Regions from separate parts of the Homo sapiens genome. Here region 2 is linked to region 1. Evidence: fine-mapped expression QTL. A gene starts in region 1. The other region holds a variant in brackets. All regions are shown on one strand. Distances are from middle to middle.

Evidence for each region. PIP is the estimated chance that this variant, and not a neighbour inherited with it, causes the effect.
Region 2: its variant is fine-mapped to the expression of FBXL2 in thyroid (GTEx, PIP 0.97). The same link has a PIP of 0.9 or more in nasal epithelium.

What each region holds. Positions count from the first base shown.
Region 1 is chr3:33,276,445-33,278,944 of GRCh38, forward strand. FBXL2 (F-box and leucine rich repeat protein 2) reads left to right here and starts at 998. Exons shown (of 15, transcript NM_012157.5): 1 at 998-1,071. The coding sequence starts at 1,069. It overlaps LOC124909362 (a long non-coding RNA gene), which reads right to left and starts at 910. Exons shown (of 2, transcript XR_007095861.1): 1 at 724-910. RefSeq lists silencers at 819-888, 953-1,120, 1,089-1,268.
Region 2 is chr3:33,391,275-33,394,306 of GRCh38, forward strand. It overlaps UBP1 (upstream binding protein 1), which reads right to left. Exons shown (of 16, transcript NM_014517.5): 14 at 2,038-2,180; 15 at 1,289-1,340. It also overlaps a transcript of FBXL2 not described here. Among named protein-coding and RNA genes, the nearest start is that of UBP1, 48 kb to the right of the region's middle. The variant G/A (reference allele first, on the strand shown) is at 1,362.

The DNA.
Region 1 (2,500 bases):
CTGCTTCAGCCTCCCAAAGTGCTGGAACTACAAGTGTCCCATCGCACTGGGTCCTTCTTCATAGAGTTAATGGACTAGATTTCAGGATATCTAGAGTTCCCTTCAACCATATTAAAAACATTCAACAAATTGCCAGTTGATTTAATGAATTAGACAACATGCATAGAATGCTATTCCATTAAGTGGTATGCAAAGATAATAATTTTTTTTTTTTTTTTGAGACGGAGTCTTGCTCTGTCGCCCAGGCTGGAGTGCAGTGGTGTGATCTCAGCTCACTGCAAGCTCCACCTCCCGGGTTCACGCCATTCTCCTGCCTCAGCCTGCCGAGTAGCTGGGACTACAGGCGTCCCCCACCATGCCTGGCTAATTTTTTGTATTTTTAGTAGAGATGGGGTTTCATCGTGTTAGCCAGGATGGTCTTGATCTCCTGACCTCGTGATCCGCCCGCCTCGGCCTCCCAAAGTGCTGGGACTACAGGCGTGAGCCACTGCGCCTGGCCCCAAGATAATCATTTTTAATCTAAAAAAGTAGATTATAAAACAGTTACCTATGGTTTGCCACCATTTTTAAGAATACAGTATATTATAACAACTCATTGGAAGCTTGAAGCAGATAGAATGGAATCTGAGCAGTAGCTACTTCAGGTGCTGGGGTGAGTGTCGTTTTATCCTTTTAAATTCTTGTTATTGGTAATTTAAAATGTTTTCAATAATCATGCATTACCTGTATAACGTTTTTTTTAAAAAAAAAAAAATCCATGGTCTCTTTCAGCTGGGCAGTCTGCGGCTGGGTAATCTGTCAGGTGAGGGACATCAAGGTGATCAGACTGAGAGGATGGACCAGATACGAAGTGGGAGAGGCGAAGAGGCCCAGTTCCAGGGCCGGGGGCGAGGGGTGGGCGGTCCAAAGGGCACCGCCCCTGCGGGTCACGTGCTCGCCGACCACCAATGGCCGCCTCCGAGCCCACCTTGGGGACGGGGCGGGGCGCCTGGCTGGCGTCACCAGGACAACGGGCGTCGCCGGCGCCGTGTGACTTCGGGCTGTGGGCTCGCTCGCGGCTCTTCGGCCATGGTGAGTCTGGGACCCGCGTCTGCCTAGCTGCCCCGCCCTACCCCTACCGGGCTGGGTCCGCACGCCGCCGCCCGCTAGGGTCGGGCAGGCGGCGCAGGGGTCGTGGAGAGGCCGGGCCGCGGCCTGCGAGGCTGCTGGGCAGGGCAGGGCTGGGCGGGCCCGGGGAGGGGTAACCTGGGGGATTCAGAGCGCCCGCCTGCCGGGGGGCGACCGCGATGCAGCGTTCCCTGCCGCTGGAGTCGGGGTGACAGCCCGGACCCCCACCCAGTGGGCCGCCGGACGACGTGACGCTGTTTGGCCCGAGAGAGCCTGGGAAGCCACCCAAGGAGGGTGTGGTTAAAAAAAAAAATCTTGTATATGGATATCATATGTATTTATATTTACACTAAAGCAGTCTATATGCCTCCAGTTTTGTTTCTATGCAGTTATGTGTAACTAATATAAGACATATATCTTCCTTTCAAAATCAGCATTCTGATAGGTTTTTTAGCACGTGGAAATTAAAATTTTTGATTTTAGAGACCCCTCCCCTCCTTTCTAAAAAATAGAGGGCATTAAGCTGGAGGGTTTTTTTTTCTGAGTGCCGCACCCTCACTAAGGGATTTAATTAATTCATAATTAGTGCATTGTAAACGTCTTAAATCATTACCTTTGTTCAGTTAACTTCAGACGGCGTGGGCATAACACCTGGCCCCCTTTAAGCTCGTTTTAAAAACGTTGCTCGGTTTCACTCGGCGGAGGTGCTGGCTTGAACAGACAAGTTCAGAGAATTGCCAACCGAAGGCATAATTCTCCAGAGGCCTTCACGGGGTGTAAGAGAAGAGAGGAGCTAGACTCCTTGCTTGGGGACACACCCTTGGTATAGAATACTTGAGGAGGTATGGCGGTAGGTGTAGGTAATAGGGAAATACTTAGTTTTGTTTTAACCATGAGTAATTAAGTGGAGATTTTCTCCTTATCTGCAGGAGTTTAGTGGAAGTGCTGATGAGCTGAGAATGCAGGGTGCTCCCCGAGTGCCAGCTGGCCTCATGGAGAAAAAACTATCATTAGGAATCCTGGCTGGCTCAGTTTTTTTCTTAATAACCAAGGAGAGGGATGGTGGTGGGAGGTGGATGGTGTCTCTCATTGACTCTGGAAAAGCAACTTCCAAATGTGTGGCATTATTGCTGGCAGGAGAAAAACATCACCCATAAATCACAGTACCATGTAATGCCTTTATTTTGTGTATGTTTCTTTTTTAAATTGCGAATTGCTTTTTAAGTGACAAATTAATGGAGCTGGCAAGAGTTTCAGAAACTGAATTTTATGAAGATATAAGTGTTTCAAATATTGCAGTAATTTACTGTAATATGTTATATGTGAGAAAAGCCCTAACAATTGTAGCAAGGAGAAAGAATATCCAGGAATTAATTTTTCACAGCTCTCTGAA
Region 2 (3,032 bases), 120 kb after region 1:
ACCGGATTTGGATCTTAGCTCACCTGACTTTTAAAACAGTCTATGAATGTATGATCTCTTCTCAAATAATTTTACATTTAGGAATCCCTCCTCTTTAATGTTGGAGCCACCTAAGCCTGGTCCTGGCTCTTTTCATATTCTCTCCCTAAATGACCTTAACAACTTCTACAGCTTTGAGTCACTGCTGATATGCTGAAGGTTTCCAAATTTACATCTCAAGCCCAGGCCTCTTCTCTGAGCCCCAGACTGGTAATAGTCAACTGCCTACTTGACATTTCTACATATCCAAAATCAAACTCTTGGTTGATTTACCCCAACCATACTTACCTCTTCAATGAGATCACCATCTGCCCAGTTACTTTCCACAGAAAATAAGGTGTCAGAACTATTCCTCCCTCAAAAGTGGAGCCCACTGGGACCCTGTCTATAAACGTGTAAGATACCATCACCTTTCACCTGGATATCTCCTGCCTCGTTTTGCCACCTTCTCATCTGTCTCCACAGAGTTGTGAAAGTGAAAGAAAAATCTAGTCACATTACTACTCCTTTGTTTAAACAACTTCAGTGACAACCCAATGCATTTCAAGTAAATCCGAACTACCATCATCATCCGGTCCCCGCATGCCAGACCCGGCCTCCTGCTTTGATTTGCCCTGATCCGCTCACCCTCACACACTGCATGGCACCTACATGGCCCACTGCCAGGCTTTCCAAGAAGCCAGGTGTTTTCTTTGCACACAGCCCCACGTTGCCTGGGGATGCTAATCCAATGGCCAGCTCCCGCTTCTTCTCATTCTTCAAGTCTCAGGATTAATAACACCTCCTCAGAGAAGCCTTGCCTTACAGTTTCATATTCCCCTCAACCCAGATCTCCCTTATCCATAAGTACCCCCACACTTTCCTGTTCCTTCATGGAACTTAACATATTGGGAATTTTGTGTATCTCTTGGCCAATTTTGGTTTGCTTTCCCCAATAGGAGTTTCATGGATTCTGTTTTATTCAATAGATCCACTGAGCGACAGAAGCACGGTGTCTGACACAAAGTGCTCAGTAAGACGTTGGCTGAATGAATTGAGATTTTTTTTTCCAGTCATCTAGAAAGACTGACTCCTCTTCCTTATATGCTAATTTCTGTTACAACCACTAGAAATATTCTCATTTATCAAACTTTCTTCTTAAAATGAGTAAAGCAATCATTTTAAAGAATAAACACGAGAGGCACTAATTAGAGGCACACACCATCTCTCATGATTCCAGCATTTTAAGACACACACACATGCAAAGTACCTTTTACTGTGGAGAATAAAAAACAACTCTCATCTTGAAAATTCTGAACCATCTGGAAGGATAAAGTAAATGC[G/A]TAAGTACAATTAAGATCCAACTGTCGTTTCTTAAAATGATTTTAAAACAGTAAATATTCTTCTCAAACAAACACAGGACTCAATGGCCAAAACGATAATTCATGAAGGCAGTGTGAGGCAGCAAAGATGCACACGTGCTGCACTGCCTTGTGTTCACTATGCCTGTCCATAATGGTCCCTGAGAGACCTGGTCAGTCACCCATGTGACCCACAGGGGCACATTCCCTGCCGGCTCCAGTGGATGATGACTCGAACAAAAATTGCATAAAGTGCTCTTCTATTATTACTTGCCACCAATCACTAGGGGAAAAATTATATATCTTACATGTTTTTTTAAATTAGTCATCAAATAATAGACAAAAGGAAAACACATCCAGTGACTCACCTCATAAAAAGGGCCAAAGCCTGCCACTATCCCTAGAGTGCCCCAGTGATTGGCTGCATCCTAAAGGGCTGGGGGGAGGCTAAGCCAGTTTTCCTTGGCTTGTATTCCATATTATCACTAGGATGCCTGAAACTCTTGGTTATAAGTTCTTCCAAAGTGATTCCCAACTCTCTGAAAATGATTCTCATAAGTATTTTCAAAAGAGGTCACAGAATTTTTCTACAGTTCTACAATTACATGTATAAAAGTAAATACCAGTCTGAAAAGGAAAAACAAATGATTTGATTTACCTGATCACTAACAAGAATGTGAATACCGGTGGGACCCTGTCTGTAAACCTGATTAATTTGGTGGAGAGGGATATTAAACACCAGCGCAAGTTTTCGAGCAACTTCTGAGGCAATCATTTCTTCCAAGTAGATTGCATGATAAACTGAAATTAAAAAAAAAAAAAGAAAAGCATTTTAACAGTAATCTTTGATCTGTTTTCTGCCTGATCTGTAGGATCTGTACGAAGGTCACACCTTTCAAAGTACCAAAAAAGTAAAAAAACATTTTAAATGGGAATAAACTATTTCTTTCCCCCATCTTACTACCTTGAAATCTTGAACTACCAATCTAAAACGTAAGAATACATTATTTATATCCACAAATATAATTTAATAAACATTAACAGAAATCCCTGGACAAAAAGATTTGAGGTTTGAATTTTTCTTCATATTTTTATTCAATGAATATAGTTTCATGTATTCAAAATTTAAAAACAGGAATTGGCTGCAAATGGACATGGGGGATCTTCTTGAAATAATGGAACTCAAACTGAATTTTGACAATGGCTGCCAAACTCTCTAAATTGGCTAAAATACCATTATATACTTACAATGGGAGGACTTTATGGTATGTAAATTATGCCTGAAGAAAGCTGTTTTTAAAAATAATATATACTTCATGTATTTCTAGCAATATACAAAAAGAACCCTAAAAGAGTCATAGTTCTTTTTGTTTATTTTTTTAAGACAGTGTCCTTTTTTGTTGCCCAGGCTGGAGTGCAGTGACACAATCACAGCTCACTGTAGCCTCTGCCTCCCAGGCTCAAGCAATCCTCCCACCTCAGCCTCCTAAGTAGCTGGGACTATGGTGGGGGCACACGCCACCATGCCTGGCTAATTTTTATTATTATTATTATTATTATTATTATTATTATTTGTAGAGACAGGGTTTCACCATGTTGCCCAAGCTGTCTCAAACTCCTGGGCTCACGCAGTCTGCCCAGTTAGGCCTCCCA